Homo sapiens: one gene and its partner. The protein of the gene in region 1 interacts with the protein of each later gene in a biochemical or structural test. Each region holds a gene or a part of one and is shown in the gene's direction. Other genes may lie near its edges.

Region 1 (7,308 bases):
CTCACAAAATCTTTGTTTGGAAATCGATCTGCCTTTATTAAGCACTAGAGGCTAAAGAGTTGATTTCAATGCCATTTGATATATGAATACACTAGCATAAATTGTATTCATCTAAGATCAATGATTAAAAGGAGGGCATTTATCATTCTCCCCTATCAGGCACAGAGGAGAAGTGGTGTGCCGCCCTAGTGGTATTGCCATAAGATGTCTATCTGATTTGCTTTCTTTACTCACTTCAACATTCTGTATTAAAGCACATTCCCAATTAATAAAATGTCAGTAATTGGTAAACAAGTGCGATGCATCAATGAATTCTATTATAAATAAGTATTTTTTTCTGTAAGAATTGATAGAGTGGGAAATATAATCCATGGCAGGTTGGATGGCATAAACACTTGATAAATGCTGGTAGAAACGTATAAGAAATTCTTATGAGAGGTTTACATTCATTTACTGAAGCCAAATCTGGTTTAATGTACTTTTTTGCATCAATCAATTTGATAATTTTATGTGAGTTTTTAATACTACATGAAAAATACCTAAAATATTTTTAATATTTGCATCTAAATATTTTTAGATATAAGATATCTAAAATAAGAAGTTTTGACAGTTGATTGTATTCCATTTTCTTGCAGATTGTCTACATGGGCTGGTGTGAAGCCCGGGAGCAAGACCCCCTCCAGGACAGAGTGTACTCCCCGACCTTCCTGGCCCTGAGGGGCTCATGTCTCTACAAGTTTCTGGCACCTCCAGTACGTGTTTTATTGAAATGTATTGGTCGTTTCCATATTATCACAAGAGATTGACACCAACTTAACAGCACCAAATAGTATACCATCAATATTTTTAAAAAATAATATAGAGAAAAAGTAGAAATCAGTTTATCTGATTTAACTTACTAAAATATATATTCTGACATTAAACATTTGCTTTAACACCCTTGAAAAGTCTGGAACTTACTTCTTTATAAATAGTGAACCTATAAAATAATGGATCAAATTATAATGCCATTACAAATCTCATGACGACATGGGAAAGGAGATTTTAAGAAACATTTTCAAGCATATGTCAGTGTATTTTGTTTATGGAATAAAAATTAAAGAAATGAATATATCAAAAGTGAAATAAAAAAGAATAAACTGTTTTAGGGCTATACATGAATGAACATGTTTACTAAACTCTTATTTTCCAAGGATCTTTTGAAAGTTCTTTTAAATTTATTCAGCACTTTTAATTACTAGTAATTTATTATTAGCAAAGAATAATAAGGAAATTTCAAAATGATAGCATCTTATCTAGCTACTATTAAGTCTATCTCACCCTATGGTAATCCCATAGGATGATGTTAACTCTCATGGTGTTCAACATTTAAATTAGAGGATTCTATCCTTGGCAAACAACACAAATACATTCTGGTAAGCTATCATTTATGACAAGTCGAACTTGCTTATTTATGTTGTACAGGTCTCTCTATATAAAATCAATAACATTTTCATCTTCTATTATATTCTATATCCTAGTTATTGAGATTTGTACTAGATATGTATAGATACCTATTGCACCTCAAGTCTTGCTTTTGGAAACATGTACCTTGCAGCTCAGAAGACACTTAATAAATATTTATTGAATATAAATACCAAATGCCAGACCAGTCACTTGCAGGTCTAATAATACATAAGATTTAGAAATCATCAGGTCTAACTTGCTGCTGTTTTAAATGTCTGTCTCTACACAAAGTTTAAAGCACTAGGAAGACAGAGGAAAAATTGATATTTATATATTTTACTCTATTCCTACTCTGAATAATTTATTTGACAAGACAGTTAAATATAGTTTCCAACCTAAGTAAGTGAAATAACTGCATTATGCTTTGGGTATGTTTGCAATGTCACAGTCATCTTGGAATTTCTTAATATAAATGATGTATATTTAAAAAATATAGCTGTGTTGAGGTCTGGTATTCTCTGTATTTAACTAGTGGTAAATTAAAAAAAAAATATGAGTGTGGAATGTAAATACTTAGTATTTATAGGTAGAGAATGCGTATATTATTTAAGATATATAAGGACACTGGGCAAATGAGAACTGTTGCACATAATATAAATCATTTGCTGAAAGCATAAGACAAATGGTAACAAAGCTTGGAAAAGAGGAAACAAAAGCATTATGTAGGGTCCTTTATGAGCATGGCTTCACAGATGAGAGACTAGATACATCTGTGAAAGTTTTTTCTTATTTTTCACTATATTATGCAAATCAAATACAGTGGTAAATAACTTTCTAAAACAAATTAAACATTATTTTCTTATCTTTTAAAGGTGACCACCTGGGACTGGACGAGAGCAGAGAAAACATTCTCAGTTTATGAGATTATGTGCAAGATCCTCAAGGTATGATCAATATGTAGTCAGTATTTGAATGGCTTTTCCTCAGCAAATAGTGCCTCTGGGCTCATAAGCAGCTCATGAAAACAAATCATTCATGGAATGAAAGAAGAGACACGATAAAGACAAATGAAAGAGAAAGAAAATAAACTGGACAAAAAAGAGAAAATATAGAATGCACAGAAGTGCACTGGCACTCAGCTATCTGCTTAAATAACTTGCAAGCAGACTCTGCAGTCCCACCGTGGGTGAGGGAACAGGGAGAAGCTCCTCAGGAGTTCACTGGGGAAGAAGAAAATTCAGTTGAAAGTAGTCTGAATTTAAACGTTGGTTGTTACCATGTTTTTTTTTTTAATTCTTTTTTTCTGAATAAAATGCAAAAGAGAAAGATTTGGGTGAGACCTGGAATTAGAAAATATAGAAAATATCAGGAAAAATGCAAAGAAAAGTTTTGCTGTTTTGTTCTTAATCTCATGGCTTGACCATCTTTTTGCATATGTAAAAGAACATTCGATTGTCATATATCAGTTGAATTTCATGCCATATGCAGGATTATTACAATATCAAGCCATCACAAATTCTATAAAATGTCACATGGTTTCTATAGCGTTTTTTAAAGAATTAAAATTGGAATAACCTATAAAACATGAAGACTAATATATATTCACTTTCTACTTTAGGGTTTGTAGGCTTGGACTCACCACAGATTGATAATTAAATTCCTGCATAAGGTTGACCTTGTTTCTGTATCCAAGGGGAGCTAATTTCCCTTTGCTTTATGTTAGCTATTTCTCTTCCCGTTAAAGACTTAGCAGAGTAGAAAAATGCTGAAACATTTAAAATATAATAAAATGCATCAAAAGTGTCTGAAGGCAGAGAGACAAAAATTATAATTACCTCAAAATTGTTTATAGTTTCTGTTCCTTATAGAGAACTTTGGATTAAAGCTGAAGTTCTCTGAAGTGCAAAATCCAGCCAAAAGTATAGTTCATTGATTGCTCATCACTGTGCATGCTTTGAGTTCTTCTGTAGGCGTAATGGTGGAAGGACAACCTGAAATACTTGAGTGTATTGTTAGTAAAGAAGGGTCTGACAATTTCTTAAACAGAGGCTAGTATCTGAGGAAAAGGAGATCATACACGACTCCAGTTTTCTGAAATAATTGCCAAAATGGCTAATGAGATAGCTTTCTTTTTTTTGGAGATGGAGTCTTGCTCTGTTGCTTAGGCTGGAGTGCAGTGGTGTGATCTCGGCTCACTGCAACCTCCACCTCCCAGGTTCAAGCAACTCTCCTGCCTCAGCCTCCTGAGTAGCTGGGACTACAGGCACATGCCACCATGCCCAGCTAACTTTTTGCATTTTAGTAGAGACAGGGTTTCCCCATGTTGCCCAAGCTGGTCTTGAACTCCTGAGCTCAGGCAATCTGCCTACCTCCGCCTCCCAAAGTGTTAGGATTACAGGCATGAGCCACCGCGCCAGGGCGAACTGTGTATTTTTAGGAAAGCTACTCATGTAATTAGGGGAAGAAAAGAAAGAAAGAAAAGAAAAGAAGGAAAAGAAAAGAAGAAAAGAAAAGGAAAGAAGGAAGGAAAGAAGGAGGGAAGGAGAGAGAGAGAGAAAGAAGGAAAGAAGAAAGAAAGAGAAAGAAAGAGAGACAGTAAGAAGGAAAGAAGAAAGAAAGAAAGAGAAAGAAAGAAAGAAAGAGAGAGAGAGAAAGAAGGAAGGAAGGAAGGAAGAAAAAGAGAAAGAAAGAAAAGAAAGAAAGAAAGAAGAAAGAAAGAAAGAGAAAAAAGAAAGGGAGGAAGGGCAGGGAGTGCACAGAGGGGAGAAAGGAAAGAAGGAAGGAGAAGGAAGGGAGGGAGGGAGGGAGAAGGAAGGAAGGAAAGAAAACTGCCTCAACAAATCAACTTTGTCTATTCTCTATCTGTACACTAATACAACTTTTATCATAGTAATAACGCAACACATATTTATATATTCTTACTTAGACTTAAATTATTTTCTAACCACTCTCCAAGTAGCTGCATGATCTTTTAAATCCTCTCTTTTAAAAAAAGCTATTTAAACATTAGAACATAATGCAGTTTACTATAGTAGTTAAAAAGGATAATTTTAAAGGAAATAATAAACATTATGTTTAGCTCTATCAAGATATACAAACAATATGTTCTATCTCTTTGTTACAATTTTTGACAAAGATTATGCAATTCATGATCTGCTATTTTGTGTAAAAATATGTCTTGAGATTTTTTTCTATGACAGTTAATGTTCCTTAAAAACACTGATAACTTTTTGATAGATTTCATCTATCCCATCATTTGCTTGTATTCATTGAGTCCACTTTAAAATTTTACATTTAGTTTTTTCCCCCACTTGTTATTGCTATCAGGCATATCACAACAATCATTATTTGAATGGTTTAATAGAAAATTAAATGTTTGCTATATACCAGGTAACCTCAGCACTTGTTATGTGGCTGAGAAAAATGCAGAAAAAGCCACTGCTTTCATTGAGCTTGCATTTTATTAGGTGATATGATGTTAAGTAAATCAATAAAGAAGACAAAAATAGTAAGTAAATAAATGAGACAAAATAATAATATGTAGGAAGGACTGATATTTGCTCAGACTTTTATGCAAATTCTTATTTCCTTTAGTCTAAATTCTGAGCTTTGGAAACCCCATGTGGAAAAATATTTTAATGTATTCAAGATATTAAATCCATGTGTACAAATTGCCTCCTACAAGTCATCTTAACTTATGCGGCCATCAGAAGTGTCTATGAGAGTGCCTGTATATTTACATTCTGACCAAATTAAAATCAAAGACTACTTCTCATTTTAACTTTCTATATACAATTTTCTATAAGCCTTAGTTTACTTGAATTTTTTTAATACTTCAAGTTCTGGGATACATGTGCAGAACGTACAGTTTTGTTACGTAGGTATACATGTACCATGGTGGTTTGCTGCACCTATCCACCCATCATCTAGGTTTTAGGCCCTGCATGTATTAGGTATTTGTCCTAATGATGTCTCTCCCCTTGCCCCCAACCTCCCAACAGGCCCTGGTGTGTGATGTTCTACTTGGGAAAATGTTTACATAGGTTAGTGAGGCCTGGCGATAAGTATTCTCATACATCAAATACAATGTAAATCTACCTTCAATTGTTGTATGTAATCAAGGAAGTCCCCCTCCCCTTAGTAAGTACAATGCTGGTGCTTTATGCTTTGTGGCTTGACATTAGACATATAAAGCCATCCTTCAAGCATTCCTTTTCCCAAAGGAAAATTTCATGTAGCATGAGAACAGAGGAGTGGCTTCTAGATTCGATGCTAATGGATTATTTTCCTGCATGCAGATTACCTTCTGGCCTTCTCCTGTGTCAGGATCACTGGTTGATAAGGAAGCCAGTCAGATAGGTGGGGCAGGTGAGCAAATAAGAAGGGGCATCTTCTACAGCCTAAATCAGAGGGGGAGTCTTCTACAGCCCAGCCCTCTCCTGCCATGAGGTATCACTTCTGATGCAAGCTGTGCAAGTTGTAGACTTCTGCCTCCAGAAAATGGATCCCTCAGGTGAGGCTAATTAAAAGTCAGATTTGAATGTCTGGATCACAGAAGAACTTGCCTGTGACCATTAATCAGGAAAATCCTGTCCCTTCTGATGTGTTCATAATGAAGCTACACCAGTAATAACAAAAATGAAGCAATAAGGTTTATCTGGTACATATAGTTTATATGTATGTGCCAGGTGTTGTCCTAAGTGCTTAGTATATGAATTCAGTTTGTATTTACAGCACCACTATCTGTCAGTTATTGTTATTCCCATTTTAGAGATTTGGAAACTGAGGCAAAAAGCAGTTTAAGTAAATAGCCTAAGGTCACACAGCTAGTAAATATCAGAGCTAAAGATATGAATCTTGCAATGTGTCAAAATTCTGTGCTCTTGCACATGATACTACACTGTCTCTGTCTCTCAGCGTAAATATTGATAATTTGGGAAAAAAGATGGGAACCAGAGAGCCAGCCTGGTACTGATGAGAGAGCAAAGGTTTCAGAAAAAGGAATTTGGCAACAAATGCCACTTCTGTTACTAAAACATTACCCTTTATGAGTGTATTGGGCACTATGAACTTCAGTTCTTCATCTGTGAAATGCAGCTATGGATGCAGAGGGTGCTGTGAAGATTAGGAATTGGTTAACTGATTTGTGAATGCATTTTTGTCTGTTAATTCATATCAGTTACTTCGAGTACCTTCTATGTGCCAAGCACTCCACTAGGTATTAAGGATAAATACAACAGTATAAGAGAGTTGAACTCACAAAAATTCCAGCTGATGAAGGAGTTTAGGAAGGGCATTTTGGAGGAGGCTTTTAATGAACTGAAACCTAAGTGACTGTGAAAGGGCTCCACAGAGGAAGATGTGTCATGGCAGGGGTTGGAGTCCAGCCAGTAGGAGGGGAGGAGCAACCTGGTCCAAGGAATAATGTATAAACTTGCCCAGAGCTACAAAGAAGTATGTGTCCCTTCAACAAGGCAAACAAGTTTGTTACAGCTGTAGTCATCTTGGGTATGAGGTTGGTGTTGGTGTTTGGATGGAACAGATCATAGGAAAAGGCCTTAATAAAGCACATGAACTTTATCTGAGGAACAAAGGACAGCCACTAAAGCATGTCAAGCATAGGGAGGGACTGAGGTTGCCCATTTAAAAATCCTCTTCGAATGCAACGTGAGATGGAGATGAAGGGGCCAGAGGGGAGTGCTCCTGGGACATCTTCTGGTCAACCAGGGCATGGACAGCGGGCTAGGAGGAGAGAGGCAGAGGAGTCGGGCCTGAATAGATAGTGCCCTCACAGTAGCTACTCACCTGCATAGACCAGCCTTCTTGCACCGCTCTGGTTTGACTCGTTTTGCTCTGATTCTA
Region 2 (4,136 bases), on another chromosome or scaffold:
CCGTGCTGGGAGATTCGTGCTAGGTCGTGCTGCATTATTAGTAAAAGGCTATTGTGATAGTTAACCCTCATTTAGGAGGAGCTCTAAGATGGATTCACAAAATACCCAAATGCATACAATACATGTGGGTCACCTTATAATTAGGGTCTAGAGTAATTTGGAATGTAAAGCAATTTTTATTCTGAGGTTTCCTAATTCAAATGTTAATAGTGCACCAAAAGGTCAATTCAAGAGTTTATTATTATTATTTTTCAACCCAAGTAAAAGCAGAGAGAAAATAGCCACCTCCACCATAGCCTCAGAAGCAAGCCAACAGCCTGAAACAGCTTTGAAATGAAAAGTTGGTGTGGCGGTGATGGTGGCAGTGATAATGGTGACGATGGTTGGGTGCTGGTGATGGTAGTGGTAGTTGTGAAGGTGGTGATGGTGGTTTGATTGATAGTAAAAAAAATGTTCGTTAATACAAGTAGAGAGTAAGTAATCAATCAATCACTCATAGCCAAGGTGGAAAAGATGTATCCCATCATGGAATATTCCTGTTCTGATAGAAATCTTGTGCTTATCTATGGAATTCTTTTGATATATATTTACATTGGGAACCTGAATGTAGCTTGACATTTTTCCATGTAAACACCAGTAGCCTGATCCAACATTAAGCTGATACTAACAAACAACGTGTAATGGCTTCATTAATAAGGCTTTGCTTCTTCCTGGAAACTGGTGAAAAATCAAACCTTGTTGTGTACACCCTCGATGCAGCTTCTGTGTTGTCTTCACCCAGAAATGGGGAATGATTTCCCAAATGGCAAAGAAACAGAGTGATGCTATCTATCTGCACCTTTTGTAAAGTCTGTCTTTCTTTCTCTTTGTTTTCCAGGACACAATGTAGGAAGTCTTTTCCACATGGCAGATGATTTGGGCAGAGCGATGGAGTCCTTAGTATCAGTCATGACAGATGAAGAAGGAGCAGAATAAATGTTTTACAACTCCTGATTCCCGCATGGTTTTTATAATATTCATACAACAAAGAGGATTAGACAGTAAGAGTTTACAAGAAATAAATCTATATTTTTGTGAAGGGTAGTGGTATTATACTGTAGATTTCAGTAGTTTCTAAGTCTGTTATTGTTTTGTTAACAATGGCAGGTTTTACACGTCTATGCAATTGTACAAAAAAGTTATAAGAAAACTACATGTAAAATCTTGATAGCTAAATAACTTGCCATTTCTTTATATGGAACGCATTTTGGGTTGTTTAAAAATTTATAACAGTTATAAAGAAAGATTGTAAACTAAAGTGTGCTTTATAAAAAAAAGTTGTTTATAAAAACCCCTAAAAACAAAACAAACACACACACACACACATACACACACACACACAAAACTTTGAGGCAGCGCATTGTTTTGCATCCTTTTGGCGTGATATCCATATGAAATTCATGGCTTTTTCTTTTTTTGCATATTAAAGATAAGACTTCCTCTACCACCACACCAAATGACTACTACACACTGCTCATTTGAGAACTGTCAGCTGAGTGGGGCAGGCTTGAGTTTTCATTTCATATATCTATATGTCTATAAGTATATAAATACTATAGTTATATAGATAAAGAGATACGAATTTCTATAGACTGACTTTTTCCATTTTTTAAATGTTCATGTCACATCCTAATAGAAAGAAATTACTTCTAGTCAGTCATCCAGGCTTACCTGCTTGGTCTAGAATGGATTTTTCCCGGAGCCGGAAGCCAGGAGGAAACTACACCACACTAAAACATTGTCTACAGCTCCAGATGTTTCTCATTTTAAACAACTTTCCACTGACAACGAAAGTAAAGTAAAGTATTGGATTTTTTTAAAGGGAACATGTGAATGAATACACAGGACTTATTATATCAGAGTGAGTAATCGGTTGGTTGGTTGATTGATTGATTGATTGATACATTCAGCTTCCTGCTGCTAGCAATGCCACGATTTAGATTTAATGATGCTTCAGTGGAAATCAATCAGAAGGTATTCTGACCTTGTGAACATCAGAAGGTATTTTTTAACTCCCAAGCAGTAGCAGGACGATGATAGGGCTGGAGGGCTATGGATTCCCAGCCCATCCCTGTGAAGGAGTAGGCCACTCTTTAAGTGAAGGATTGGATGATTGTTCATAATACATAAAGTTCTCTGTAATTACAACTAAATTATTATGCCCTCTTCTCACAGTCAAAAGGAACTGGGTGGTTTGGTTTTTGTTGCTTTTTTAGATTTATTGTCCCATGTGGGATGAGTTTTTAAATGCCACAAGACATAATTTAAAATAAATAAACTTTGGGAAAAGGTGTAAAACAGTAGCCCCATCACATTTGTGATACTGACAGGTATCAACCCAGAAGCCCATGAACTGTGTTTCCATCCTTTGCATTTCTCTGCGAGTAGTTCCACACAGGTTTGTAAGTAAGTAAGAAAGAAGGCAAATTGATTCAAATGTTACAAAAAAACCCTTCTTGGTGGATTAGACAGGTTAAATATATAAACAAACAAACAAAAATTGCTCAAAAAAGAGGAGAAAAGCTCAAGAGGAAAAGCTAAGGACTGGTAGGAAAAAGCTTTACTCTTTCATGCCATTTTATTTCTTTTTGATTTTTAAATCATTCATTCAATAGATACCACCGTGTGACCTATAATTTTGCAAATCTGTTACCTCTGACATCAAGTGTAATTAGCTTTTGGAGAGTGGGCTGACATCAAGTGTAATTAGCTTTTGGAGAGTGGGTTTTGTCCATTATTAATAATTAATTAATTAACATCAAACACGGCTTCTCATGCTATTTCTACCTCACTTTGGTTTTGGGGTGTTCCTGATAATTGTGCACACCTGAGTTCACAGCTTCACCACTTGTCCATTGCGTTATTTTCTTTTTCCTTTATAATTCTTTCTTTTTCCTTCATAATTTTCAAAAGAAAACCCAAAGCTCTAAGGTAACAAATTACCAAATTACATGAAGATTTGGTTTTTGTCTTGCATTTTTTTCCTTTATGTGACGCTGGACCTTTTCTTTACCCAAGGATTTTTAAAACTCAGATTTAAAACAAGGGGTTACTTTACATCCTACTAAGAAGTTTAAGTAAGTAAGTTTCATTCTAAAATCAGAGGTAAATAGAGTGCATAAATAATTTTGTTTTAATCTTTTTGTTTTTCTTTTAGACACATTAGCTCTGGAGTGAGTCTGTCATAATATTTGAACAAAAATTGAGAGCTTTATTGCTGCATTTTAAGCATAATTAATTTGGACATTATTTCGTGTTGTGTTCTTTATAACCACCAAGTATTAAACTGTAAATCATAATGTAACTGAAGCATAAACATCACATGGCATGTTTTGTCATTGTTTTCAGGTACTGAGTTCTTACTTGAGTATCATAATATATTGTGTTTTAACACCAACACTGTAACATTTACGAATTATTTTTTTAAACTTCAGTTTTACTGCATTTTCACAACATATCAGACTTCACCAAATATATGCCTTACTATTGTATTATAGTACTGCTTTACTGTGTATCTCAATAAAGCACGCAGTTATGTTACAAAAAAGTATTGACTGGACTGCAGTACTTTGTTTTTATTTTAATTTAGTTGTTGTTACTTACTTACTTACTTTTTAAATAGGTAATACATGCATATGAGTAAAAAACTATAATCCAGAAAGACAGTGAAAACACTCCTAACTACCCCTTCCCCCATATCAATCAATCATCCTCATTGCTCTATGAGTAGACATTATTAATTTCTTATTTAGTCTTCCAGAGGGTCTTTCTTTATTAATTATTATATAAGCAGTTAAAATAATATATATGTTCCTATTTATTTTTTTCCTATTATTATTTCATAGGATATAGCATTCTCTGCACCCAGTTATGCACCTTACTTGTTTGTTTGTTTAAATTTAAATATGGACTCAAGAAATCTTTTCATTTAAATATATAAAATGCTTTCTCATTCTTTTTTATAGCTGTATAATATTTCATTATATGTTCATAGGATATTTTATTTAAGCAGTTCCCTTTGGTGGGATATGTAGTCTGTTGTCAGTCTTTCTTTTGCTATAACAAACAATATTGCACATTTCTCATTACATCATTTC

Evidence for each region.
Region 2: the proteins of SNTG1 (region 1) and DMD form a complex in vitro, tested with the Homo sapiens proteins (one study listed by BioGRID).

What each region holds. Positions count from the first base shown.
Region 1 is NC_000008.11:50,656,274-50,663,581, forward strand, and holds part of SNTG1 (gamma-1-syntrophin), read left to right. Parts: intron 1-635; coding exon 636-752; intron 753-2,318; coding exon 2,319-2,390; intron 2,391-7,308. UniProt on the Homo sapiens protein: Adapter protein that binds to and probably organizes the subcellular localization of a variety of proteins. May link various receptors to the actin cytoskeleton and the dystrophin glycoprotein complex.
Region 2 is NC_000023.11:31,118,672-31,122,807, reverse strand, and holds the end of DMD (dystrophin), read left to right. Parts: intron 1-877; coding exon 878-889; coding exon of another isoform or gene 890-975; 3' UTR 976-3,586; downstream 3,587-4,136. UniProt on the Homo sapiens protein: Anchors the extracellular matrix to the cytoskeleton via F-actin. Ligand for dystroglycan.